Homo sapiens: one gene and its partners. The protein of the gene in region 5 purifies or fractionates together with the protein of the main gene of each other region. This does not show direct contact. Each region holds a gene or a part of one and is shown on either strand. Other genes may lie near its edges. The genes, in order: LLPH, GNL2, GNL3L, CNP, OAS3, CAPRIN1 and NUDCD1.

Region 1 (4,098 bases), about 47 Mb from region 5:
CTTAAAACACAAAAAGTGTTACATTCAATTCCTAATGTGATTTAGCTCACTCAATCTAATTCCAAAATGATTTGGTGCTTAGCTTGAGCTCCATCTTGTGGCTTTACAGCAATTCTCTGGAAAATGTCAGTCAAAAAGATGACAAATTTCAAAAAAATAAGCTAATTATTTAAAAGATAAAAGGACTATGCTATACTTCTCGATTTGTAATCTTTAAAAATAAAGTGCCAAAGATGTGACCATACCCCTGCACTAATTTTGAAATGCTAGTCTAAATTTCCTGCCAATATTTGGAGGTGGGGAGAATCTTGCTGGTAGTGTTCAGGAACTCAGTGCCTTAGAGGGTACTGACAACACTGTGTCAGTAAACTTCTCTTCAGCAGTCGCCTTTCCAGAGGCCATGTGACACTTGAGAACATGATTCCCAAATATGTTTTCTGGTAATGGTGCTTTGATTTTTGATTTTGTTAACTTTCAAGTTAAATCCTGAATGGACAAACTTCATGACTGGACACAATGAAGTGAAAATCCTAACATCAGAGAGGCTCTGGATGAAAGCTCAAAGCTACTATCAACAGAATCAAATTAGAGGTTATCAGCCACAGAAAACATGAACATAACCCTGGCATTGGTCTCTACCTGACAATGCTGCCAAAATGTAAATAAGTGCCAACTGTGTAATATCACGAATGTAGACTTTTTTTTTTTTTTTTTTTGAGATGGAGTTTCGCTCTTCTTGCTCAGGCTGGAGTGCAATGGTGTGGTCTTGACTCACTGCAACCTCTGCCTCCCAGGTTCAAGCGATTCTCCTTCCTCAGCCTCCCAAGTAGCTGGGATTACAGGCACCTGCCACCATGCCCAGCTAACTTTGTATTTTTAGTAGAGACAGGGTTTCACCATGTTGGTCAGGCTGGTCTCAAACTCCTGACCTCAGGTGATCCATCTGCCTCAGCCTCCCAAATTGTTAGAATTTGGTGCCTGGCCCCCTTTTCCAAAAATCATAAAAAATGTCTACATTAGGCCGGGTGTGGTGGCTCACGCATGTAATCCCACCACTTTGGGAGGCTGGGGCAGGTGGATTACTTGAGTCCAGGAGTTTGAGACCAGCCTGGGCAACATGGCGAAACCCTGTCTCTACAAAAATACAAAAATTAGCTGGGCGTGGTGGCACCCACCTGTAGTCCCAGCTACTGGGGAGGCTGAGGTGGGAGAATCGCTTCAGCCTGGGAGGTGGAGGTTGCAGCGGAGCCACACTTGTGCCAATCACTCCAGCCTGGGTGACAGAGTGAGACCCCATCTCAAAAAAAAAAAAAAAAAAAACATAAATAATTCAGCTACTGTATTTAGGCTGATATTGTCAGTGGCTTAACTGGTTGTTTGCAATTTTTTTTATTTTATGAATAAAAATGTACATATTCACTTTTCCCTCACAAATGCTAGTGTTATTCATACCTACACCAAAGGCAACAAAGATCATGAATGACATCTTTCAATTCATATCTTTCTTAGCTGTTAAGAAATTTTAAGCATTTAAAGTTATCTACCAACTTTTCAATAAACTATTGAGAAAAATAAGAAAAGTCTACTATATTTAAACAATTCCAAGAGTTTACTGGCATCAAATTTTATAAGCTTAAATTTTCTGAAACATTTGGGTCATGTCCTCTTTATTACAATACATGTCCATGTATTGTGCCCCAATTTAGCAGTGTGCCTGGCACAAAGTTTGTGACCTCATGACCAAGTGGCCTTATTCTATTTCACATTTTACTTGAGTTCTCCTGGGAAGTTAACATCTTCTTCTAAACAGATACACAGCTCTCAGCCCTATGAGAGCAGAAATCTTATCTTATTCAATCTGTCCCAAGCATCTGGAAAGTCCCTGGCCCACATACTAGGCACTCAGTAAGTATTTGGTTGTTCCAGTTAACATATGAGATGGTTAATCTGATTATAGTGAAATTCAGAGGGAATGCTAAGTTTAGATTGCTTAACTAAAAGTAAAATAAAAATGAATTTAGCAAACTGTAGTAAGACAGATTTAACTAAAAATCATTTCTCAGAAAACTAGTTTCAAAGAGTAGACGCTAAACAGGTTTCTTTGCTGCTGGAACCCTGTAGGACTATTCTAATCCTAAACTAAAATCTTTTGTAAATCTTCAAGTATGTAGCATTTCCCAAATCGATGTGAACACAATTTATTTTTTTTAACCAAGCATCCAGAGGAAACTGATACTGAAGAACACACTCCGGGGAATGCTGCATGATACTATATTAGGCCACACAATATTAACACTAAAGAACATTAAATCAGTTTCCATGAAAAACCTGAAATGTTCTAATTTCCTAAAAAGCATACTGATTTGTATATGTTAATATTCTACCTAAAATTAAGATAAGAAAACATTTAATTGAAATCTGGTCTTCTCTAGGACTAAAAAACCTTAAGCATACATGAAAGAAAAAAAAATCAGACTTGAAGATCTACACACAAAATATCTTTTATTCTGTGGAATCAAAGCTCCACACAAGTACTTTATAAGATCCATTATTTTTTTTTTTTTTGAGACAGAGTCCTACTCCATTGCCCAGGGTGGAGTGCAGTGGGGCAATCTTGGCTCACTGCAACCTCCATCTCCTGGGTTCAAGCAATTATCCTGCCTCAGCCTCCCGAGTAGCTGGAACTACAGGTGCGCGCCCCCATGCCCGGCTAATTTTGTATTTTTAGTAGAGATGGGGTTTCACTGTATTAGCCAGGCTAGTCTCGAACTGACCTCGTGATCCACCTGCCTCGGCCTCCCAAAGTGCTGGGATTACAGGTGTGAGCCACCATGCCCAGCCCTAATGTAGTATTTTTAAATGATATGATTATACAACAACTTTCTTTAAAATCTAAGTTCACAAAAATTTGTCAGTACATCATCTGTTTTATCTCTATTGACTATAATTACCAGTTGTAAGAACAATTCTAACCATATTAATACCTGACAGAACGTTGAGGCCTGATTATAACTGGATATTGGGTAGCATCCAGTTAAAGTATCAGTAGAGCTTGGATGTATCAAAGAAAATATTTTATTCAAGTTCCCAAAACAAACTTGAGGAGTTATGCTGGGTTTGAATTGAAGAAAAAAGGCCAAGTTAAAATAGGAAAACAAATGGTTTTCATTTGGTGGCAGTTGAAATCAAAGTATACATGTGTATACATTCTAATCCGTCATCTATCCCATGTGGCATTTTCCAAGGTTTTAAGAGTCTACCAGGCCAAACCCTTTGCCACTTTCACTGCTTTTGCTTTGCTTTTCCCCTTTCTTTTCTCTCGCTTTGCCTTCAGCCTTTTTCTTTGCCTTTGGTTCATCCATATTGGGTACTGTCCATGCTGGTCTAGAAGAGTCTTTTTGTTTCTCTTAATATCAGTCTCCATTTTCATGTCATCTGCATAAAAAGATGGAAAAACTATTAACACCATGTATGAAAAAAACCACCCTGTGAAAGCATATTAATGCACTGAGAACATCAGAACATTAGAACTGAAGGTAGACCGAAAATAGAGAAGAAAAAAACTTTATAAAGAATGTTGGCATGACTGTCCTTCCTTAGAATAGTAATGTTAAATAGGAAACATTTAGGATGCATGGCTCTGAGTTAGTACATTAGTAGATATATGGTTCTGAGCACATGTGAGTTACAACAACATTTCTCATATTAAGTGATTCCTTGAGTTCAGTAAGCATACCTACACTTCTAAGGGATACACCTTAGATGTAATGAACTGATTAGGAATGACTGGCCATTTCTTAAGAACTTGAACTAAATTATAATGAACTGAGAACGAACTTCTAATGAACTCGATGGAGTAGTCAGCAGCAGGGTTGTAATGGCAGAGACAGGCACTCAACAGAGAAGACCTGGACACATCCTGGGGCTGGCATACTTTTCCTAGCTAGGTAACACCCAGAGATCCAGCTCTACTGATAGGAGACTTGGCAGGAAGCTCAGTGCAAACATGCTGTGGTACACCTATCACCTTCTCCACTGTGAAGGACATGCTCAGAGTCCCTCACTGGGACCTCCTTATCAGGATACACAAAGTCTTCT
Region 2 (4,098 bases), on a different chromosome or scaffold from region 5:
TGGGACAGCGTAGAATTAGGATTGAGTTGGTAGAACTTTGGTGTTGCGTACGTTCAGCTTTTGTGAGATCCTTGAGATTTTTTCTCAGCTGAAGGAAGGGGTGCTGGTCACATTGGTTGTCAATTGCTAAAATTTGAAGTGCAGTAAGGATTCAATCTGGGTTGAGTGGAATGAGTTTCACACAGAACAAAGAAAGAATCTGTTGTTTGTCTGCTTATTTTTACTTGCATTGAATAATAAATTCCCAGAAATGTAGCCAGTACGTAAGCTTCAGTTCCAGTATGAGGAGGGGAGAAAAACATTGACATGCATACGTGGGTTAAATAGTTCAGGCTGGGCGCGGTGGCTCACGCCTGAATCCCAGCACTTTGGGAAGCCAAGGCGGGTGGATCACAAGGTCAGGAGATTGAGACCATCCTGGCTAACACGTGAAATCCCGTCTCTACTAAAAATACAAAAAAAAATTAGCCGGGCGTGGTGGCGGGCACCTGTAGTCCCAGCTACTCAGGAGGCTGAGGCAGGAGAATGATATGAACCCGGGAGGCAGAGCTTGCAGTGAGCCGAGATTGCGCCACTGCGTGCCAGCCCAGGCGACAGAGCAAGACTCCGTCTCAAATAAATAAATAAAAATAAAATAGTTCAAAGAAAACTGTTTACTTGCAGAACAAAATAAAAACCAAGGCCTGGTTATTGCCTCAGGTTTTGTCAGTTATGTTTTGTTTTATGATGCACTAGAAGAATGGCACCTATTAGTAGAATGACTGTTTTCTTTCAGGGGAACACATGAGTGTAATTCATGAACCACAGACAAGTTGCTCATTTCCCTTGTTCTCTTTGTCTGTTCTCCCTAAAGCCATCTTTTAAGCAACTATTGAATCCTGTTTATGAGAAGAACAGAGAGGTTCTGTGATGGATTTATTGCTTCGTTGCCTGTACTTGTTGTCAGTGCTTCTAAAATTCAGTGTTTAAATATCTGGTATGTAGAATGAAGGGTCTGCAGTTGCACCAGTCAGCTTCTTTGTTGATGCAGAAAGCTGCTCAGAGTAATTGATGAGTTTTCTGCTTTGGCCTTGAAAAACCTTAACTATTTTATTTTAGTGTAATATCTATTACTTATAAAATCTAATTCTGAGATTATTTTGCACAGTGGAGTTAGATCAGATACGCATATTCATCTATATGTGTTTTAGAACTACTGTATTTCTGTAGCAATACAGTAAGAGTACTGTAACTTTGCATATGTGCTTTATATACTGTATATTACTGTGTTATACTTACTAATGTGTGTTATACTTACTAATGTGTAGGTTTATAGACATAAAGCCTTGGGTACTGTAACTTACAGGTTAAGAGATTTTGAAGGATAATTTTGGTCACACTTGATTTTACCCAGTGACATTAGACCCTATTTCCCATGTAAAATGAGCTGCTTCTGTTTGGAGATGCTCCCGAGTGGAACGTAGTGACTAAAACTAAACTGAGTTGTGGGTTAGGGCATCTGAGAAAATGATAATAGTTTAAGGATCTTTAGAAGTTGGAAGAGGGGATCTGTTAAAGTTCAGAAACCACAGGGGCTGCTGCATCATCCTCACAGCTTTTGGTAGTGGTGCTTACGGAGGAGCTTGTACTAGGGGGAAAAGGGTGATTTTTTTTTTTTTAATTGTCTGCAGGCTGTTAACATTCCGTTATGTGATAGATCCCAACTCTTTTATCTTGCTTCAGAAATTCCTATGCCTGTAACTCCTTTACAGGCACATCAAGTTCTAGTTAGTATCAGGTTCCTTTTATCACATCTAAACTATTATTTTGGACTTTTGCTAGATGTTTTTCATCCGAAGACTTGCCATGTGCATTTAATAAAAACGTTACCTAAATTAGGGAAAATGTTATCTGAAACTAAAATGCATCTTACAAAACAAGCAATTCCTTTTAGCCATGAAAGAAATTAACTTCCAAGAAAAAGTTGGCATTTACAGTTGGTTTAAAAAAAACTCACAAATTTGAGTATGATTGTCCTTGACAAAATCTATGAATTTGGCGAATTTTATGCTCTTGTTTGAAAGCTATAAAAAATGGTGGAAAAGATTAATTTTCACCACTGTAGCCTTAATTACATTTGACTGAAATTTATGATAAATGAAATAAAGCAGAGTTTTTGGCAAGTTTTTGTACAACTATTCATATTTACTTTGATTATTTGTATTACTTTTGTATTTCTCCAAGGAAGCTTACAGAACTTCAGAATAAGGGAACCAGTGTTTGTGCCATTTCAACAAGTAATTCTGATTTGAAACCAGACTGAAACCATGTCTTACAGATTTGGGTATGGGTTGAACCTTGGAAAAATAAAATCAGAAAGTCTTTCCTAGGTGGGTGTTGAGCTTTTTGCTTTTTCTCAGTGCTTTTCTTAGTTTTACCTGTTATTCTCCTTTCTCTTCAGAACTTGAAGGTGCACATTCTTGATACTGAAAGTTTTGAAACTACATTTGGCCCTAAGTCACAGAGGAAACGACCAAACTTATTTGCAAGTGATATGCAGTCTCTTATCGAAAATGCTGAAATGTCCACTGAGAGCTATGACCAGGGCAAGGATCGTGATTTGGTAACTGAAGACACTGGTGTGAGGTACATTTTTTTTTTTGCTTCTTTGTTTTTGTTTTTTTTTTTTTGAGATGGAGTCTTGCTTTGTCGCCCAGGCTGGAATGCAGTGGTGCGATCTTGGCCCACTGCAACCTCCGCTTCCCAGGTTCAAGCAATTCTCCTGCCTCAGCCTTTTGAGTAGCTGGGACTACAGGTGGATGCCTCCATGCCTGGCTAATTTTTTGTATTTTAGTAGAGACAAGGTTTCACCGTGTTGCCCAGGCTAGTCTTGAACTCGTGAGCTCAGGCAATCCACACTCCTTGGCCTCCCAAAATGCTAGGATTACAGGTGTGAGCCACTGCACCCGGTCGAGGTACAGTTTTGAAGTTCATGCAAATCTCATCATTTGCTCTTCTGCAACAAAACATTTTCTTTCAACTTATTTTGCCTGTGTGAAGCTCAGTGCTTTAACTCATATATGGAGTTATCTTCTTCCCTCAGACTGGAGACGTTGGTGAAATTGGGGCTAGACTGAAGATGTCTAAGGTGGCTTGATTGACAAAGGTCTCTCCTCATCCCCAAAATAAATAACATTTTTTCATTTATAATAGTAATACACCAGTCATAGACAAATTAGGAAATATAGTTAAGTTGGAAAATACAACAAAAAGAACATAACTCATGATCCCATTGCTGATATTAAGCATTGTTAATGCCTCTGTGAATATCGGGGCTTCCTTAACTGGAGGTCTCTGAGTTAATGGATGGCCTGTAAGGTTTCTTTGACTCTTTGAAGAAAATGTGGAAAATTTGTGAGCTTACATAAAGGCAGTAGGGTTTTGTGTTTTTTGTTTTTGTTTTGGGGAGGAGGAGGAGGAGAGGAAGTATCTATAATTTTAATCATATTCTCGTAGGGATCCATACTCAAAAGGAGAATCAGTCACCGGCTGGCTGCAGTGGCTTACCTGTAATACTAGTTTTTTGGGAGGCTGAGGCAGGAAGATCGCTTGAGCACAGGAGTTTGAGACCAGCCTGGGCAACATAGTGAGACCTTGTCTCTACAAAAAATAAAAAATTGGCTGGGCATAGAGTCCCAGCTACTCAGAAGGCTGAGGTGGGAGGATCACTGGAGCCCAGGAATTTGAGGCTGCAGTAAGCTGTGATTATTAGGAATATATTTCTATGTCAGTACATAATCAACAATAATATAATATTTATTGTCAGAGTAGTATTTTGTTTGTTATGGCCAGTCTCATTGTTGGACATTTATACTGTGTATAGTTTTTCCTTATGGTGAACAACACAAGGATGAAGCATCAATGTGACCGCATCTTTTTCATCCTTAATTATTCCCCAAAGATAAGTTCTTACGGAGCAAAGCATGATATCAAAAGGTATGCATGCTTTTTGATAGGCAGCTGCCACATTGCTCTTGAGAAAGGGTTTAATTTCATTTCCCTTGGGCAGTGCTAGAAAGCTCTCATTCTCGTCCATCTCATGTCTCTTAAATGAAGTGG
Region 3 (4,098 bases), on a different chromosome or scaffold from region 5:
CCCAGCAACTCAGTGATACTCATAATAGTCATGCAAAGTAGAAATTTTTGTTCCGATTTTCAAAGCCTGTATCACAGAGTATGGTACAAGTTAGGTGTGGAATCCAAGCCTGTCTGCCTTTCAGTCCCCTGTTCTTGCCATTTTGAGCCTTCTCTGTTTTTGGACAACCCTGGAGAGTTCCTCCTCCCTCAACTCAAAGACTGGGGCAGAGGAGCACATGGGCTCAGGAGTCACTCATGTCTAGGGTTCAGCCTCCCACCTGTCCTGATTCTTTTCTCTGAGACACTGGATAAGTCATGCCACCTCCAAGAGCTCCTGTTTCTCTAGCTGTAAAATGGGCCATGGGTATCCCAACCTCACAGATTTGTTGTAAGAATTAATGATAAAATGCTTGGTACATGGTGGTCAGTACTTCACACATGATAGCCATTCTTTTTAGGGTTATCTTTGTCATTTGGCCCAACCTAGAATGATCCAGAGAGGGGATAGGAAACACAATATTTGGGGGGTCTCTGATGCTCCTGGCGCTGTTTTGGAAAGAGAACATTTGGGACCAGATAGCTAGTTTGTCCATTTTCCCTGAGGGAACAGAGGCCCCTTCAGGGAGGGCTAACGCATCCCGTAGACCAGACTATCCTTTCTAACTCCAACCTGCGGACTGGATGGGAATGACAGGGCCAGTTGAGAGACCTGTTGATGGTAGGTGGGCCTAGCTTTGGGTACGGGTGGAGGTGTCTTTGGAGGGAACCATGGAGGTGTTGTTCTGCTTACCAGCCCCATCTGTTCCTATATTTACCCCAGACCTGGTCCCCAAGGAGGTTGTGGAGAAATGGCTGGATTACCTTCGGAATGAGTTGCCAACCGTGGCTTTCAAGGCCAGTACCCAGCATCAGGTCAAAAACCTGGTAAGCCTGGGGCTAGGGTCATCTAGCCGCTTTCAGGGTAGTTTGGGGCCAGAGCTGGGAGGGTCGTGACTTGGACTGGGACCTCCAGCCCTTTAGTAATTGAACTGGGCCTTCAACTTTGAGCTTTTTGCTCCACCGAGTGACTTTTTTTTTTTTTTTTGAGATGGAGTTTCACTCTTATTGCCCAGGTTGGAATGCAATGGTGTGATCTCGGCTTACTGCAACCTCCACCTCCTGGGTTCAAATGATTCTCCTGCCTCAGCCTCCAAAGTAGCTGGGATTACATGCACGCGTCACCATGCCCTGCTAATTTTTGTAATTTTTTTATTTTTAGTAGAGATGGGTTTTGCCATGTTGACCAGGCTGGTCTCGAACTCCTGACTTCAGGTGATCCACCCACCTCGGCCTCCCAATGTGCTGGGATTATAGGCATAAGCCAACATGCCTGGCCAGTGACTTCTTAATATTAGTTTCACTTGACTTCTTCCTGTATTATCACTCTTCAGGAAGCATTTCTTTTTTTTCAGTTGTAAGGATAAAACATAATGTCTATAGGGAATTTGTAAAATACAGTTAACTACTTGTTTGTTTGTTTATTTATTTATTTGAGACAGAGTCTCACTCTGTTGCCCAGGCTGGAGTGCAATGGCATGATCTTGGCTTACTGCAACCGCTGCCCACCAAGTTCAAGCAATTCTCCTGCCTCAGCCTCCCAAGTAGCTGGGACTACAGGCATGTGCCACCATGCCTGGCTAATTTTTGTATTTTTAGTAGACACGGGGTTTCGCCGTGTTGGCCGGGCTGGTCTCAAGCTCCTGACCTCGGGTGATCCACCCGCCTTGGCCTCCCAAAGTGCTGGGATTACAGGCGTGAGCCACCACTCCCGGTCTAACTTTATTTTTTATTTTTTGAGACAGAGTCTCACTTTGTCACCCAGGCTAGAGTGCAGTGGCACCATCTCGGCTCACTGCAATCTCTGCTTCCTGGGTTCAAGTGATTCTTGTGCCTCAGCCTCTAGAGTAGCCAGGATTGTGGCTAAGTTTTGTGTTTTTTTTTTTTAGTAGAGATAGGGTTTCACCATGTTGGCCAGGCTGGTCTCGAACTCCTGACCTCAGGTGATCTACCAGCCTTGGCTTCCCAAAATGCTAGGATTATAGCTGTGAGCCACTGTGCACAACCAACTACTTGTTAACTTTAAAAAATACGTATACCTCCAATCATTTTTCTCTTTGAAACAAATCACAGTTCTTCCCAATTATATCATTAATAGAGAAATATGTATGGTTTGTAAAATATTAATACAGAAACTGATTGTTTCTGGGAGAAAAATTGGATACTAAGGGACATTTTTTTTCAATTTTGCATTGGATGTTAAACTTATTTAAAAATAAAGTAGAAAAAATAAAATTAACTACAGATAAAGCTTAAATACCCTTTCACCAGTCTCCCTAATTCTAGTCTCCTTTATTCATGCCCAGAGGTAACTACCATTGACAGTTTGGTGTGCATTCTTCCAGACTTTATTTATTTTAGATACAGATATTTAGGGTCTCAATTGGTCATCCAGGCCTCAGTGCAGTGGCGTGATGATAGCTCATTGCAGCCTCAAACTGCTGGGCTCAAGCCATCCTCCTGCCTCAGCCTCCTGAGTACCTTGGACTATAAGTGCATGCCACCATGCCAGGCTAATTTTTATCTTTTTTATTTTTGTAGAGATGGGGGGAGGGTCTTGCTTTGGTGCCCAGGCTGGTCTTGAACTCCTGGCCTCAAGTGACCCTCCCATCTCAGCCTTCCAAAGTGCGGAGATTACAGGCGTAAGCCACTGCACTCGGCCTTCTTCCAAATGTTATTCTGTGCTTTGGATATACATAGAAGTGTATATATAAAGAGGGAATACTGTTTGGAAGTATTATGTATATCATTCTGTGGCTTAGTTTTTTTTTTCTCTTGGACATCTTTCTATAGAGATGTGCCTTTTCGAGGCTGAATACAATTAGTTTCCAGTTTTTTATCGTTATAACCTGGGCTTCCACAAATACCCTTGTACATGTCTCCTTGGCACATGGGCAAGTGTGTGTTTGTAGGTGAGGTAGAGAAAGGGAGTGGCTGGGTCATAGCCTTTCTGCATTTTACCTTTACCTAGACACTGATGAATCACCCTCCGTGATGGCTGTACCAATTTATACTCCCACCAGTGGGGTAGATGAATGTGTGAGAGGCCTCTTTTCCTACACCCTTGGCAACATTTGATAGCATTAAACTTTTAAACCTTTCAGAAACATGATACCTTATTTACATTTTCTTGGCCTTTTTAAAATTTAAATTTAAATTTTTGTTGAGATGGAGTTTCACTCTTGTTGCCCAGGCCGGAGTGGGATGGCACGATCTCGGCTCACTGCAACTTCTGCCTCCTGGGTTCAAGTGATTCTCCTCCCTCAGCCTCCCGAGTAGCTGGGATGACAGGCATGTGCTACCACGTCTGGCTAATTTTGTATTTTTAGTAGAGACAGGGTTTCACCATGTTGGTCAGGCTGGTCTTGAACTCCTGACCTCAAGTGATCCACCTGCTTTAGCTTCCCAAAGTACTGGGATTACAGGTTTGAGCCACCGTGCCCAGCTTCTTGGCCTTTTTGATGGCAAAAATAGAAGCCGCCTTTTCTTTCTTTTTTTTTTCTTTTTTTTTTTTTTGAGATGACGTCTCACTCTATCTCCCAGGCTGGGGTGCACTGGTGCAATCTTGGGTCACTGCAACCTCTGCCTCCCGGGTTCAAGTGATTCTTCTGCCCCAGCCTCCCGAGTAGCTGGGATTACAGGTGCGTGCCACCACACCCAGCTAATTTTTGTATTTTTAGTAGAGACGTGGTTTTGCCACGTTGGCCAGGCTGGTCTTAAACTCGTGACCTCAAGTGATCCGCCTGCCTTGGCCTCCCAAAGTGCTGGATTACAGGAATGAGCCACAGCACCCGGCCAGAAGCCACCTTTTCTAACAGCTGTATTTCATTTGTATTCCACTTTAAGGCTACAGCTTTTTAACCTGTTTCTTATTGATGGATATATAGGCTAATTCCAATTTTGTGATATTGGAAACAATGCTGTGGCTGGGCGTGGTGGCTCATGCCCGTAATCCCAGCACTTTGGGAGGCCAAGGTGGGCAGATTGCTTGATGCCAGGAGTTTGAGACCAGCCTGACCAA
Region 4 (4,098 bases), on a different chromosome or scaffold from region 5:
GTTGCTGCTCGCTTAACTCCACCCGGGCCCCAGTCGTCTTGGGTGTCACAAAGAGGGCAGAGATGGTCAGCGTGAAGGCCTTGGAGTAAGATTTCTTTAACACCTGGGGAGAGTGAGAAAGAGGGGCCCAAGCTAGAGATGGCAGGCTCTTGAGGAACAGCTGACCCAGGGAGGGTCCCTCCTGGAGGAGAGAAGGGGAAGTCTAACAGAAGTGAGCACAGCTGAGCAGGGGTCGGTATAGGCCCAGCATCCACTAACAACTGCGGCACGCACCTTCCATAGGCGCTCCAGGCTCAAGTGAGAAACACGAAGGCGCTCAGACAGGGCCACACGGGGACAGCCGGACTTCCTGAGGGAGCCCAGCTCCCTGCACACTGGCTTCCGGCCTCAGCGGGCTGGCTGACCTCTCGGTGCCTTGGCTTCATCACCCGTAAAACAGGGAGAACCAGAGCCTACCTCAGAGTTAATGTGGTTATGAGAGTGACTAGGTAAACAGCCCACAGGGGTGTCCGCGCACACAACAGCTGCTACTGTTGGCACCGCTCAGCTTCCCCTGGGACCCAGACAGCGCCCTGGAGGACAGGGTGAGGTCAGACTGAGGTCAGACTCGCCCTTGATGGAAACCTGCTCTTACACTTTGGTTCCCATCTGATGATATGTCTGCTTCTATCTGATTCTTTGAGACAGCCCATCCCATCTCAGCATAAACGCTTTTCTATTTTTGCTCACGATCCCTTGTCCCAACAGTGTCTGGCATGAAATGGGTAGTTAATAAATGCTAAATGAAGGCATGGTTAGGGATGGTAGCTCAGGTGTTACATATTCATTCCACTATGCTAGGGTGCTGGAACCACAGGAGTCAACGAAACTTAAAAACTCGCCCTCAGGGGAGCTTCCATTTGGGAGGACACTCTAGTGAACAAACAAACGATTGTGCTAACCTAGGCAGAGAAGTGGGAGAGTGGGCTTGGGGGTGGACACTTGGAAGTTGGAGACTGTGGATATGGGTGACATGCCTGGCATTCAGGGATCACTGTCAGTGGCTGTGGGTGTAAGGTGCCAGCTGTGTGGTGCAGAAAGGTCTCGTACCCATTAGCCAATAAGCTTCATTATCGTATGAAACTCCCTCACTCTGGGGCCAGGCCAGACCTCAGACCTGGGGACAGGGATGGGGACCTCAGTGCACCAGGCTCCCTGGGGGCGAAGGACTCCTAGTCTTTGGAAGGTAAAACAGGCTCAGAGAGACCAGAGCAGGAGCCCACTGTGGACCAGCATTCTCCATGAATCTGCAGAAGGCGAAGGTGCTTGGGGGCAGGTGAATGCACAGGCTGGCAGTACTGCCAGGGCAGGCTCCTTAGAACCTGCGGCTGAGGTCTATGCAGCTACGCCTGGGGACAGGGGAGCTAGGAGGAGGAGATGCCATTTTTCTTGAGCTGCCATCTGGTTTTTGGTCCCTGCCTGGCACCGGTACCTATCTTCAGAAGATGCTGCAGCCCCTTCTCCCCCAACCTCCCACCTCCCCCATGTGTCCCTGGGGAAGACTCACATCTTGTTGAGCGTACTCCTCTGCCCCGGGAGCCTTCCCGTAGTCACAAAACTTGGTTGTGCAATGCAGCACGCCTGGGGGTCTCTTTCCAAAGTAGGTGACCAAGTCCATCTTCTCCCTGGGCTCATCCCCAGGGACGACTGCCGGGAGAAAACGGGTGCAGTCAGGGCAGGGGAGCAGGGGCATACCAACATCCGCCACCAGGACCACCGAGGCCCAGCGCAAAACACTCGGACACTAAGCATCACCTCTCCAGCAACCCACTACAGCTCATTCATTGGTTAGTTGGTCAAACTAATGGCAACTTTAGAGCAATAAAAAGTTAAAATTCTCAGGCCAGGTGCGGTGGTTCACACCTGTAATCCCAGCACTCTGGGAGGCCGAGGTGGGTGGATCACAAGGTCAGGAATTCAAGACCAGCCTGGCCAAGATGGTGAAACCCCGTCTCTACTAAAAATACAAAGAAATTAGCCAGGCGTGGTGGCGGGCGCCTGTAATCCCAGCTACTTGGGAGGCTGAGGTAGAGAATTGCTTGAACCCAGGAGGCAGAGGATACAGCGAGCCGAGATAGTGCCACTGCACTCCAGCCTAGGCAACAGAGCAAGACTCCGTCTCCAAAAAAAAAAAAAAAAAAGTTAAAATTCTCTGGCTTTACATTGTATAGATCTTTCCATCTCTTCTCCAAACTCTAAGGCATTTGTAACAGAGGCAGGCAGTACAGGCCAAGGGAATCTAAGATTTACTAGCACCACGTCTCAAAGGGGAAGCAAGTCATGGGAAGTGGGGTGGAAAGAAAACAGAGGGCTGGGAACAACATGGTACGGTGGAAACAGCCAGAACACAGTGAATATCTCAGCTCTGCCATGTACCAGCCATCGGCCTCGGGCAAGTGACCAACCCTATCTATCAATCCAGCACAACAGTTAGGGTGACCATATACCCCAGTGTTCCCAGGACCACCAGGGAACTATCAGTAGTGCCCCATTTCACTCAGGGGCCCATCTGGACAAGCAGTCACAACGTCACCATCAGTTTAATACACACCTTGCAGGCCTATGGGGGGGCCTCCTGGTACAGGAAGGGTCTTGGACTATAATGGGGTGACATTATGGGGCTGGAAGACACAAAGAGGAGTGGAGTATCTGTGATTTTGATTTCCAGACTCCACACCTGTGGCTGTCTTTGGAGTCACTCGCTTTTTCCTGTTATGTTCTGAATTGAGTCCCCATGAGGATGTCTCGCCCTCCACAGGGGAGGAAGGCCTCTCCTGAGAGCAGCCTTGCTGGCCCATTACATTTCTCCTGCTCTAATCCTGGGCAGAAAAATCCAGTTTTCCTTTACAAATAAAATAGGCTGGGCATAGTGGCTCGCACCTGTAATCCCGGCAATTTGGGAAATTGAGGCGGGGCGTTTGAGACCAGCCTGGCCAACATGGTGAAACCCTGTCTCTACTAAAAATTTATAAATTAGCCAGGTATGGTGGCGGGTGCCTGTAATCCCAGCTACTTGGGTGGCTGAGGCAGGAGAATTGCTTGAACCCGGGAGATGGAGGTTGCAGTAAGCCGAATTGCCCCACTGCACTCCAGCCTGGGCGACAGAGCAAGACCCCCGTCTCAAAAAAAAAAAAAAAAAAGATCTGGCAATCATCCTGTCAAGCTTGATTCGTCCCATCTTGGGCCAAGGGCCCCTCCTTTCTTTTGTGCTACCGACCAGCCTGGTCAAGATGGTGAAACCCTGTCTCTACTAAAAATACAAAAATAAAAAAAAATTAGCCGGGCATGGTGGCAGGCGCCTGTATTCCCAGCTACTTGGGAAGCTGAGGCAGAGAATTGGCTTGAACCCAGGAGGCGGAGGTTGCAGTGAGCCGAGATCATGCCACTGCACTCCAGCCTGGGCAACAGAGCAAGACTCCGTCTCATAAATAAATATTAAAAGCAACTTTGAGCAGTAGTCACTCCAGGGCAGAGCCACCAGCTCACAGGTACAGGGCTTGCTCCTGGCCAATGTCACTGCAAGCACCACAGTTCACTGCAGAGTTCAAGTTTAGGAGCTGAGAAAAAAGCTCTCTGAGAACCCATACAGGCACAAATTCCCTGCTTCTGTGCAATATACACAATGTCAACAAACCAGAGTGGGGCTATTTCAGGCATGAAGATCATCTAAAATTGGGGGTGGCTGGGTGCGGTGGTGGCTCACGCCTGTAATCCCAGCACTTTGGGAGGCCAAGGCAAGCGGATCACCTGAGGTCAGGAGTTCAATACCAGCCTGGCCAACATTGTGAAACTCCGTCTCTACTAAAAATACAAAAATTAGCTGGACGTGGTGGTGCACACCTGTAGTCCTAGCTACTCGAGAGGCTGAGGCAGGAGAATTGCTTGAATCTGGGAGGCAGAGGTTGCACTGAGCTGAGATAGCGCCACTGCACTCCAGCCTGGGCAACAGAGGGAGACTCCGTGTCACAATAAATAAATAAATAAAATTGGAGGCAACCAGAAATGGCCTAAAGGCATATAGATGGATTAGTGGGTGGCACTTCTCCAACAGGTCACTCC
Region 5 (4,098 bases):
TGGGTACAATTTAATAACACATGCTAGTAAATAAAGAGTAGAGAGGGTACGTCAGGAAAATGCTGACAAAGGAGGACTAAAGCCCTATTAATGTCAGACAAAAGGCTTTAAGACAAAGATAACTTTCAGAAATGAAGATTATTACTTAATAATAAAAGAACAATCCAATAAAATATAATATTATGCACTTATATGTTCCCAATAACATAGCCTCAAAATATTAAAAACAAAATTTACAGAATTGCAAGGAACAAGGGATAAATATCCATTCAGAGCAGGAGATTTTAAGATATTTTACTCAGAAATTGAGAGACCAAACAAAAAATTATCCGAGCAAGAAGTCATAAGCTAGATCTAAAGGACCTATATAGAAGTCTGCATTCAGCAATGGAAAGCATGAGATAGAGTCTCACTCTGTCTCTCAGGCTGGAGTGCAGTGGTGCAATCTCAGCTCACTGCAACCTCTGCCTCCCAGGTTCAAGAGATTTTCCTGCCTCAGTCTCCCGAGTAGCTGGGATTACAGGTGCGTGCCACCATGCCAGGCTATTTTTTTTTTTTTTTTTTTTTTTTGTATTTTTAGTGGAGATGGGGTTTCACTGTGGCCAGGCTGGTCTCGAACTCCTGACCTCAAGTGACCTGCCCGCATTGGCCTTCCAAAATGCTGGGATTACAGGTGTGATCCACCATGCCTGGATGGAAAGCATGCATTCTTTTCAACCATGGGCAATCTAAGAAATGCCAACAAATTCCAAAGAATTGATATCACATAAAGTATGTTTTCTGACTACAGTTTTAAAAAACATAATAAGTAAATGCCGAAAGCAAACAAATCTCCAAAACATTCATTTGGAAAGCTACTTCCAAATATTCATGGATGAAAGAACAAACAATAATGTCATAATTAAAAGTACTAAATATTTAGACCGGAATGATAATAAAAATTATGCATGTCAAACAAAAGATTTGCCCTGTAGCTAATGTGATACTGAAAGGGAAATGGGTAGCTTTAATTGCATTGACTAAAACTGATAATTACTAAGCTAAGATTCACCTCCGAAAGTTAAAAAAAAATGAACCATAAAGTAAACCCTTTAAAATAAGGAAGAAAATTATAACATGAGAAATTTCTTTAAAAAAATACCAAGCAGATATGCCTACTGTTAACATTTGTTAAATCTGAATTGGGCTACATGGGTGTGTGACGTCTGTAGTTTTCTGTATGCTTGAAACATTTCATAATTAAAATATTTGTAAAGTTAAAGCACTAAATAGTTGTAAGATTTGATGGTGATGATTACTTTCAGTATCTCAAAGTAGTTTTCAATGCTTGGTCAAGTAGGAGAATTAGGATCACAAAGAGGATGGCAGGTGCCCCTGTTAGATGGGCGCCTGAGGTCCCTATCACTCTCCAAGGGACAGGCTGGGCGCCCTCACCCACAGCATCGAAGGCAGGCAGCAGGCTAACATCCGTCCAGCTCTTCAGGGCTGTGGACACCAGCTGGAACTGCAGAGCCTCAGGCACATTCTGCTCAGGAAACTGAAGGCTCAGGCTGGGCACCTGGTCCTGCCACCAGGATTCTAGCTGCGCTCGCATCTCATCAAGGATCTCTGCGCGGCGGGGCCCCTGGTCCTTGTAGTCCGTGAAGCAGTTGAGGAAGATGATGAGTTCAACATCACAGCCATCCCTTAGGTCTGTGCCCCGGCCAAATGAGCCCCCCTGTGGAGGGAAGAACAGCTCAGATCAGGGACCCTCTAGGAGCCTGGGAGTCGGACTACGATCCCATCACCTGCGCCCCATCTACAGCCTGGAACCTGCCCTCTTGCTGATGTCAGGTCTGGGGACTATGACAAAGGTCGACTGCATGGGTCCTGTGACCTCTTAGAATTGTGACAGAGAGTCAAGTTGTATCTGCCTGCACCTGCCCTCTGATCCATGAAGACTGAGCTAAGTCAGACCAAACTGCAGCAACAGATAATGGAGGTGGGATTAAGTAGGGGCAGCGACCAAACATTTTAGCCTACTATCTGCAGCATCTACTGACTGCACATCTGGGCCAGCAGTTGCAAATTGAGGTCCCAAGCCCTAATAGGGCCTGCAATTGTCCTCTGTTGCCCTGTTTCCATCAATTCCCTCCCTCCCTCCCTCCTTCACACGGGATATCACACATATCCGATACATGTAAGTGCTCACTAAATGTTTGTTGCAGGAAAGAAAGAAGAAGAGAGGATACAAAATTTCTGTTCTTCTGGAACTTACATGCTGGCTGGGGGAGGGAAGGAAGGGACCATCAATAAACAATAGGTCCTGAGAAAATGCTAAGTGCTGTGCAGAACAGAAAGGGGGCTGGTAGTGCAAGACTGCAATTTTATTTTTATTTATTTTTATTTTTGAGACGGAGTTTCACTCTTGTCGCCCAGGCTGGAGTGCAGTGGCATGGTCTCAGCTCACTGCAACCTCCGCCTCCCGGGTTCAAGCGATTTTCCTGCCTCAGCCTCCTGCATAGCTGGGATTACAGGGGCCCGTCACCATGCCCAGCTAATTTTTGTATTTTCAGTAGAGACAGGGTTTCACCATGTTGGCCAGGGTGGTCTTGAACTCCTGACCTCAGGTGATCTGCCCACCTTGGCCTCCCAAAGTTCCAGGATTACAGGCGTGAGCCACCGTGCCCGGGCAAGACTGCAATTTTAAATCGTGTGGTCAGGCCTCAGTGGACGAGGACATCAGATCAAGAAACTTGAAGAGGAGAGACAGAGAGAGCGAGAGAGAGAGAGCCAAATGGTTGGGGAAGAGAATTCTCATTTTCTTCTAGGAAGAGAAAACAGCCACTACAGAGGCCTTGAATTGTTCTGTGGACCTGGTAAGCTCAGAGCAGCCAGGAGGCCAGTGTGGAGTAAGTCAAGGCCAGAGGGAGACCAGGGCCCATCCTGTAGGACTTGAGGCCTCTGCGCCCTGTGAAACCATGGAGAATTTTGAGCTGAGGAGGGAAGTGATCTGATTCTTGTAATAGTGTTTTAAAAACTGTATCATTAAAAAAAAGAAAATCTAAGCTGGCACTTAAATATATTTTATTTAAGCCAGCAAATCATCCTTCCTGGGCCGTCCAGTTCCCCAGCCCAACCTCAGCTCCATTGCTGTAACTCCTTCCCTTCCCCACGCTGATCCCTCGATAGGGTCCCCCCTGTGTCTCCACTGGCCCAACTCACTTTACTGACTCTTGAGGCCTTGTGAACACAGTTCTCATGGAGGCAGCGCAAGATGATGTCAATGGCCTTTTTCACCTGCTCCTGGAACTGGGGGCTCGGCTTCAGGTGGTCCTGGATGAAGCGGTCCAGCTCCTTGGTGGGGATCTGAGACAGGTCCAAGGCCATTCCCGGCACAGAGGGGACGATGCTGGCTGCCCCAGTGGGGCCAGGAGCTGGGCATGAGGGAGGTTTGCTCCCTGCTCTTGGGTACACAGCATTGAGGCTCTTGCTGTTTTCAGGGGTCTTCTGGTTAGGGTCTAGCTGGATGGGGTGGCCCAAACCTGAGCATCCAGCACGTGGAAGGCCCTGGAAGGTCATTGAAGGAGCTGCCTCAGCCAGGCGCAGTGGTTTCTGCATCAACCCAATGCCTTCTCTCCCCAGCTCCCGCCCTTTGTACAGTCAGGGTGACTGAGGCTCAGAGAGGGGAAGTGGGAGGGCCATGGCTAACGCACATGGCCATCTTTGGGCAGAGTTGAAAAAGGTGCCTTTCTGGAGGGATAAACTGCAAAATGGGTGCCCTTGTGATGGGCAGAAAGGTCTGGTAACCAGACCATAGCTGCAGAAAAACAAAGGACTCCTTCCCCCGGGCAGTTTCAGCTTGAGCTTGGTGATAAGACTGTTTTACATGCCTGATGCCCTGTGCATTTTTTTTTTTTTTTTTTTTGGGACGGAGTCTTACTCTGTCACCCAGGCTGGAGTGCAATGGAGTGATCTCAGCTCATTGCAACCTCCGCCTCCCTAGTTCAAGCAATTCTCCTGCCTCAGCCTCTCGAGTAGCTGAGATTACACGCACCCACCACCATGCCTGGCTAATTTTCGTATTTTTAGTAGAGACAAGGTTTCACCATATTGTCC
Region 6 (4,098 bases), on a different chromosome or scaffold from region 5:
TATAATCCTAGTACTTTAGGAGGCTGAGATGGGAGGATCACTTGAGGTCAGGAGTTCAAGACCAGTCTGGGCAGTGTAGCGAGACACCATCTCTATTTTAAAAAAATAATTAAAAAATATTTTTTCACTTTTGTTTTAATTGGTTCCTTGGTTTCTTTCTTAGCTTATGAAAGAAAATAAGAATTTCATCAGTGTCCAAGTCTTCTGTTGGAATTCAGCAAATTTATTGTTGTGGATAGCTGTCAGCCTTTATTTTTATGTTTAGGTTCATTTTTCCTCTTGATGACTTTTTAAGTTTTTCTTAAGTCTTGCATTTTAAATAATGTATTATAATATAATAAGCCTTTTTTATTTAGAACTGAGAATTTCAGAAGACATAGTTTAGACATAATTCTAAAATTTAGTGCAGATTTCTCCATCTTAGAAGTACTTGTGGAGGGCTTTTATAACGAGACTTGGGTTTATTTAACGTCGAGCTTCAAAAATATATATATTTTTGCAATTTTTAGGTTTTATATTATACAAATTTAAAGAGAGATGGTAATATTAATTTCTCCCTTCTTTAGCAGTTGTATCTATTTCTTAGCCTTATGCGTCTTAGAGGTAACTTGTTTTTTTAACAGTCAATTTTGTAAGCAGGAAGAAGCTTTTATTTCTTTACTTATGTCTAGGTTCCTTTGGTATCATCCACAAGTGAGGGGTACACAGCATCTCAACCCTTGTACCAGCCTTCTCATGCTACAGAGCAACGACCACAGAAGGAACCAATTGATCAGATTCAGGCAAGTTCTGTTACCGGGTCACATACATTTGATGAGGCACTTACTCATGAATTGAACAGATGTACATTACCATTAATATAATGATTCTTCTTTTTGGACCTACTTTGCTTTCATGAAATATTTGAGTTTGTTAATACATATAAGTTTGAGATTAATTTACCACTTTAGTACATCTGTTCACTTTTTGTTTGGCTAAGTTTAGTTTACCGCTAAAGTGCATCTATTCACTTTGTGTTTAGGCAACAATCTCTTTAAATACAGACCAGACTACAGCATCATCATCCCTTCCTGCTGCGTCTCAGCCTCAAGTATTTCAGGCTGGGACAAGCAAACCTTTACATAGCAGTGGAATCAATGTAAATGCAGCTCCATTCCAATCCATGCAAACGGTAAGCAAATTAACTAACATTAATTGCCTAGTATGTAATATGAATCATGGTAGATTTTCTTTTCTTTTTTAAAGGTCTTCATTTAACTGTGCTTGAGTCTGCATCTTTCATTAACTGTAGGGTATATTTAATTGAACATAAACTGATTATTCCAGAGATTAACTGATACTAACGGATATTCTAGAGATAAATTTTAGCCTTATGAGTGATGTGCCTGTATCATCTTAATTTGTAGTTTTACCCTTTTGATTTGATTAACAAAAGCTTAAACATTCAGAGAAATAGACTAATATAACATCCATATAATCATTACCTAGATTTAATAGTTGCCCTGTTTGCTTAATCTTTTATTTTACTGAAGTATTTTGAAGTTTCAGATGTTATGCTTTACCTTGATTCTTGAGCAAGCACCTTTAGAGAATTTCTAGAAAATAATAATAATACTATAATCTGTGGGGTGCAGCTAAATCGGTGCTGAGAGGAAAGTTCATAAGATTAAATATTAAAATAACTTTTGATTAATATGTTAATAAAAATGAAAAAACATTCAACCCTGTTAAAGTTCATAGAACAAACTTCTGTAAGTGGTACTGCATCCAGGAGTTTGTCTTATTTATTTATTTTTTGAGACAAAGTCTTGCTCCGTCGCCCAGGCTGGAGTGTAGTGGCGTGATCTCAGCTCACTGCAATATCCGCCTCCTGGGTTCAAGCGATTCTCATGCCTCAGCCTTTGGAGTAGCTGACACTCCAGGCATAAGCCACCATGCCCAGCTAATTTTTGTATTTTTAGTAGAGACGGGGTTTCACCATGTTGGCCAGGCTGGTCTTGAACTTTTGGCTTCAGATGATCTGCCTGCCTCAGCCTCCCAAAGTGCTGGGATTACAGGTGTGAGCCACTGTGCCAGGCCAGAGTTTGTCTTTTAAAAAGATTTCTCATATATGTAAAAGCATTTCCAAGGCTGCTGATTGCATGTCTTTTTATTTTTTTTAATTCCCTACTTCCATTTCACAGCATATTATACTCCCCTTTAAGTACTATATGGTATATATGTCTTTTTCCACATTGAATCACTTGGAGGGATTTTTGTATGTGTGTGTGATGTTTTTGTGTTTGAGACCTCTGTGATGTCTTTATTTATGTCTGAGGTAAAACCACCATTGAGTTTGGCCATGTTATAAACCAGAGAATAAAAGGATGAACTAATCATTTACTTTATTTACTAACAGGTGTTCAATATGAATGCCCCAGTTCCTCCTGTTAATGAACCAGAAACTTTAAAACAGCAAAATCAGTACCAGGCCAGTTATAACCAGAGCTTTTCTAGTCAGCCTCACCAAGTAGAACAAACAGAGCTTCAGCAAGAACAGCTTCAAACAGGTACGAAATCCAGTGTCACCTCATTGGCTCCTTGCTTTCCAGCACAGTTATTGACAGTGTTAGGACAGTTTAGACTTCAGAGTGGTGGTGTCCAAGAGTTTCTGTTTTAGTAGCAGACCATATGAATTTTTCATTTCAGATCATGAGTTAAATTGAGTCTGTACTTGTATATGTGAATTATGTGCAATTTTTGGAGGCTTTATAGCCATTTTCCTTTTGTCACTGAACTTACATAATATCCCTGTTGCATTGTATAATTTATATGGAATTAAATTTGTTACTTGAATTACCATAAAGTGTACTTTTTTTTTTTTTTTTGAGATGGGGTCTCACTCTGTCACCCAGGCTGGAGCGCAGTGCCGTGATCTCGGCTTACTGCAACCTCTGCCTCCTGGACACAAGCAATCCTCCCTACCTCAGCCTCCCAAGTAGCTTGGGAATACACGCATGTGCCACCACGTCCAGCTAATTTTTTGTATTTTTGGTAAAGTTGGGGTTTCACCATGTTGCCCAGGCTTGTCTTGAACTTCTGAGCTCACGTGATCTGCCCACCTCAGCCTCCCAAAGTGCTGGAATTAAAGGCGTGAGCCATTGCACCTGGTGATAAACTATACTTTTAATTGTTAATTGATTGAAGGCTTTTAGCATGATATCTGGCATTGAGTCAGTTAGACAAAGTTAAGAAAAAACTCATGGTGGCTGCATTTCGTGGACTGGGTTGAAACATAATCTATTTTGTCAAGTAAGGTCATAATTTGGCTAGTTACCATACCTGTCACGATAGTAATGTAGGTAGGGACGCTTTTATGTATTTGAGACAGGTTCTCACTTTGTTGCCCGGGCTGGAGTGCAGTGATGCCAGCATAACTCACTGCAGCCTCAAACTCCTGGGCTCAATGATCCTCCTCCCTCAGCCTCCTGAGTAGTTGGTAGTTGGGACTACAGGTGCTTACCGCCATGGCTGGCTAATTTTTTTTTTTTTTTTGTAGAGATAGGGTCTCCAGGAGCTCACTATGATGCCAGGCTGATCTCCAACTCCTTGCCTTGAGCGAACTTATTGTCTCTGTCTCCCAGAGTGGTGGGATTATGGGCATGAACTACCTTGTCTAGCTCGATAGAGATACTTTAGATTTTTTTTTATATATATATTTTTTTAAGAAATGGGGTCTCTGTCTGTTGCCCAGGTTGGAGTGCAGTGGTGTAATCAGATACTGGAGCCTTTAACTCTGGGGCTCAAATCCTGTACTGGAGCCTTTAACTCCCCACAAGTAGCTTGGACTGCAGGCTTTTCTCAAACTCAGGGCCTCCAGCAGTCCTCCCACCTCTACCTTATAGGCATGAGCCACCATGATGTCTTCTTTAGTTCTTTAATTCCTCAGAATTTAATTGGAATCCCACAACAAACCAGCAGTCAGAGGAGTTAATACTTTCATTTTGTCAGCCCGATTTTGAAAAGTTGTAAAATTTTCTAATTATTCAATTTCTTGGTAAACTTGGATCAGCATTAGATTTTTCAGTAGTAAATTCTTACACATCCTGTAGTATTCAG
Region 7 (3,933 bases), on a different chromosome or scaffold from region 5:
TCTTATACCAAAAGTAGGTCATAAAGAAATTTTACATTTTGTAATGATCAAATTCATCAATCCTTTCGCTTATATTTTTGCCTTCTGGATCTTAAGAAGCCTTCTCAACCTTGAGAATATAGATATTTTCTTCTTGTAAGTATAGGACGATTAAATGTGTGTCTATTTTGTTTACTAATGCAATGATGCTACTCTTTTTACTGCTTCATGATGTATCTTGATATCTAGTTGGGTACCTTTTACCTTGGCTCTTTTTGTGCATTTATTCTTTCTTACCAATTCTAGAAGGCCTTACTTCTCTTTGCTTTATTACTTCTATACTTCCATCATTGGGCTTTTGTTTTTTACCACTCAACTATTATTACTTGTTCAGTAAGACACACTTACTACTAAGAAGTAATTAGAATATTCTTCCAGTAATAATCAGTGATAAGTATCAGTTTTGCCTTCTTATATGACTTGCCACACATAAACTTACCATCTGTTCTTTTCTATAGTTAATAACACAAAATATTAGAAATTCCTGTGTAATGATGGTTTAACTTGTTCTGTACAGTCATTTCCCTTTTATGTAGAAATTTGATGAGTATACTTTATTTAAGAGTATTTTTTTTAACATTGTTAACCATTCCTAATTTCTTGACACTCTGATTCTTTTTTCTAACTCTTCCCATTGGCAACTCCTCTACCTGACTCTTGTGGGTAGTCCCCAAGGTTCTAGCCCTGGTCAGACTTCCTTAGCAGGAAAGCAACCACTCTATGCCACCCTCTCCTCTTTTTTTCCCTAAAAAGAAATTTTATCTGAAAATCATTAAAATGTAGATTGTCTCTTTATCCTTAGTAATATATTATCCTTAATACTGAAAAAATCATGCTAAGGTACATAGTTGATGCTTAAATGTGTTAAAAGAGTGAATATTGTTAATGACTCTTAATATGCAAAACACATAAAATACTACTTTATTACTATCATAAATATTTTATAAATTCCTATTTAAAACATGATAAAAATCAACAAAAATACAAGGTACTATATTCTTAGCACTTGTAGTATATATCTCAATGTTCTAAGTATATGTACCTTAGAACATTGTTTAAATGTTTATGGAATCCCTGAAGCATTTCAGGAAAATAGCTTGAAATCACGGCTCTAGACCTATTCATCTTTTAACGTAGGTCAACATGCGACAATATTTAGGATTAATTATCCTGAGAGCTTTCAATTCAACATTAATCATGCAAAAAAATCACATGCACAAAGAATATTGATTACTAAAATTGGCAATATATACATAGTCATGGTTAATTAAGCACCACATTTTTATTATACATTTTTCTTATGTTCCCTAAGAGGATATTATCTTTGGGGAAAATTTTAGAGAAAATTTAGATCTACTTTCCCATCATAAAGATTTTTAATAATTCACTATTTAAATGGTCTTTTGTTTCATGAAGTTTTACAACAATACTAAAAAGTTCTGGAAATATCACTGTTTTGGTTTTTGGTTACTATACAGTTTTCCATCTCTATGATCTCGTGATGTTTGGTATCTAGTCTCTCTTTCCTAATACGAATAGAGTACTATTAGGACTCCAATTGTCAATACCAGTCCTCAGGACCTTTCCTAACTTTCTACCTAGCACCTCAATACTCTCTAGGAAACTGCAATCTGACAAAGGGTTTAGAACATGTATGCAATCCTCATCTTTTTTCCTCCTCTCTGTCATTCATTCGTTCATTAAAATTTAGTTGAGTCAAATACTTGCCCAGACAGGCAAAAGATATGTTAGGAACAAAGCTTTTCTATCTTATATTTCTTATCTTAATCTTCTGCCTCTTAAATGAAGGTCTTAACTTCCTTATTAAAATATAAAATCCAACTTGAGGTTTATATAAGATACATATCTTGAAATGGTATAAAAAGTAATAAAAATTTCCAGGTACATACATACTAAAACAAACCTGGAAAGGTAAGTTTGAAAAAACAAAATTTGTGGCAAGAAACTATAACATATAAACAGGATTATTTTGTTGAAGTTGTTAGAAAAATAAAGAGAGCCACAAGGATAAATTATAATTTGTCCTTGTGTGGTAAGATTGTTCCATCAATGGCCCCCAATGAGTCATACCATCCGCTGTCAGCTTGTGTAGTCCCCTCATTCTGACTCTAGACTTGGCCATGTGATTTGCTTTGTCCAATGGAACATTAGTAAATATGATAGATGTACAGGATCGATAAGCTCTTGCATATTGGAGCTTGCTCTCTTAAGATGTTTTCTCTACTATGGAAAGAAGATTCGTCTAGTCTACTGGAGGCTGAGAGGCCCTGTACAGCAGAGACAGCCAACTCACTGAATCGTGAAAAATAATAAAAGTCCTTGTTTTAAACCACTGAGTTTTGGTGTGGTTTGTTATGCAGTGATGGATAATGTGAAATCTTATCTCTCTTTGTCTATGTCTGTGGCAGAGCAACTGGCTAAAAGTTACATAAAGCTATACTTAATTTGAAAATAATAATAAAGGTCTCTCAGTAAACTTAAAAAATATTAGACCTGCTGTTCTCTAGCATTTCCTCCTCCATGTAGACTCAGTTATTCAATCCACTTAAATACATATGTACAATACTCAACATTTAACTATTATCCTGTACATCTTATAGGTACAGCCTGTAGCAACTAATCAACGAACAGAGTACACAATAAATATTTTTATTTTTAAACACTGAATTGTACATCTTTCATATAAAACATGAGATTCTAGCCTGTTTTAAAAAATAAGTATACTTGCTAGTACTATCTTCACTCTTTTTTTTTTTCAGAAGCCAATGTTCTCTAAATCTGCAGCTTCATTCCACAGCTTTACAGAATCATAATCTCTTGAATATATTTCCAATGTTATTAAAAAATAAAAAATCATACAAGATATATTTAGCACATTAAAACTTAAGAGGTTACAGTATAACTGTCCAGACCTCCAGGTACCACTGAATACTTTTCCAGTACAAAGAGGCCAATATGTTAGAATAATTAATTCTCTGTATTTACTTTTATTAAAAAGAGGTTTTTGGTAGTAAGAACAAATAATCTCTCATTTGTTGCCTGAAATCCTAAAATAGGATCATTGGTTTCTAGGCTTGCTACTTGCTGCTTAGCAACCTGTCCTACTTGCCTGCCTTCCTTTCTGTTGTAAAGTACAGTGGACATGGGAGCAGGCTGACGATAGATGAATACTCGACGAAGGCACTCACAAAGGGCTGCATACGAGTAATTTGGAGCACAGGCAAAAAATTTTTTGTCTCTCTTTGATGCTTGGACATAGCCTGCCAAGAATATGAGACAAACAAAAGAAAAACTATATATTAAACAGAAGGGGAAAAATGATGATTTAACATTTAATATTTTGCAATGTTTATTACAAATTAAAATGCCCAAGTAAAATATATACCATAAGGTATATAATTCTGAATCATTAACGATTAGCCACAATCAGTCTCTCCCATCTGGTACAAAAATACGACTTTAATTCCTAAGGAACAAAACAGATATGGCTTTCTCGCTTCAAAAAAAGCGTAATATAGCTTCATTTAATTTCCACGAATAATTCGAACACTAAAATTCTAAAATCTAAAACACTCAATACATGACAAAATATCTTTAAGTGCCAATTTAATATTTAGCTTCGTGAGTTACGGATAGGGCATCACAGAACCATTTTTTTCCTCTTAAATAAATTGGAAAATGTGTATAGGATACCATCATAAAGTTATTTTAGTTTTCTGTTCATAATGTATCCCTGAATGTACTAGTATTCGTGATGCATTCTCTTATTATCCCTAAAATGTTAGTGATATTTTTATACATCAATACCAACACTGTAACTGGATTTTTTTGTACTTTTAGCCCCCACAAGTAGAATGTTGATCACTATAACTT

What was found.
Region 1: the proteins of OAS3 (region 5) and LLPH purify together in Homo sapiens (affinity purification with mass spectrometry; one large-scale study listed by BioGRID and IntAct). This does not show direct contact.
Region 2: the proteins of OAS3 (region 5) and GNL2 purify together in Homo sapiens (affinity purification with mass spectrometry; one large-scale study listed by BioGRID and IntAct). This does not show direct contact.
Region 3: the proteins of OAS3 (region 5) and GNL3L purify together in Homo sapiens (affinity purification with mass spectrometry; one large-scale study listed by BioGRID and IntAct). This does not show direct contact.
Region 4: the proteins of OAS3 (region 5) and CNP purify together in Homo sapiens (affinity purification with mass spectrometry, with the first as the bait; one large-scale study listed by BioGRID). This does not show direct contact.
Region 6: the proteins of OAS3 (region 5) and CAPRIN1 purify together in Homo sapiens (affinity purification with mass spectrometry; one large-scale study listed by BioGRID and IntAct). This does not show direct contact.
Region 7: the proteins of OAS3 (region 5) and NUDCD1 purify together in Homo sapiens (co-immunoprecipitation; one large-scale study listed by IntAct). This does not show direct contact.

The regions. Positions count from the first base shown.
Region 1 is NC_000012.12:66,120,584-66,124,681, forward strand, and holds part of LLPH (protein LLP homolog), read right to left. Parts: intron 3,436-4,098; coding exon 3,257-3,435; 3' UTR 1-3,256. UniProt on the Homo sapiens protein: In hippocampal neurons, regulates dendritic and spine growth and synaptic transmission.
Region 2 is NC_000001.11:37,585,838-37,589,935, reverse strand, and holds part of GNL2 (nucleolar GTP-binding protein 2), read left to right. Parts: intron 1-683; exon of another isoform or gene 684-976; intron 977-2,440; coding exon 2,441-2,625; intron 2,626-4,098. UniProt on the Homo sapiens protein: GTPase that associates with pre-60S ribosomal subunits in the nucleolus and is required for their nuclear export and maturation.
Region 3 is NC_000023.11:54,543,422-54,547,519, forward strand, and holds part of GNL3L (guanine nucleotide-binding protein-like 3-like protein), read left to right. Parts: intron 1-801; coding exon 802-905; intron 906-4,098.
Region 4 is NC_000017.11:41,969,480-41,973,577, reverse strand, and holds part of CNP (2',3'-cyclic-nucleotide 3'-phosphodiesterase), read right to left. Parts: intron 1,687-4,098; coding exon 1,547-1,686; intron 104-1,546; coding exon 1-103. UniProt on the Homo sapiens protein: Catalyzes the formation of 2'-nucleotide products from 2',3'-cyclic substrates. May participate in RNA metabolism in the myelinating cell, CNP is the third most abundant protein in central nervous system myelin.
Region 5 is NC_000012.12:112,948,312-112,952,409, reverse strand, and holds part of OAS3 (2'-5'-oligoadenylate synthase 3), read right to left. Parts: intron 3,550-4,098; coding exon 3,205-3,549; intron 1,718-3,204; coding exon 1,435-1,717; intron 1-1,434.
Region 6 is NC_000011.10:34,089,508-34,093,605, forward strand, and holds part of CAPRIN1 (caprin-1), read left to right. Parts: intron 1-671; coding exon 672-782; intron 783-1,021; coding exon 1,022-1,171; intron 1,172-2,398; coding exon 2,399-2,549; intron 2,550-4,098. UniProt on the Homo sapiens protein: mRNA-binding protein that acts as a regulator of mRNAs transport, translation and/or stability, and which is involved in neurogenesis, synaptic plasticity in neurons and cell proliferation and migration in multiple cell types.
Region 7 is NC_000008.11:109,239,982-109,243,914, forward strand, and holds the end of NUDCD1 (nudC domain-containing protein 1), read right to left. Parts: intron 3,321-3,933; coding exon 3,028-3,320; 3' UTR 938-3,027; downstream 1-937.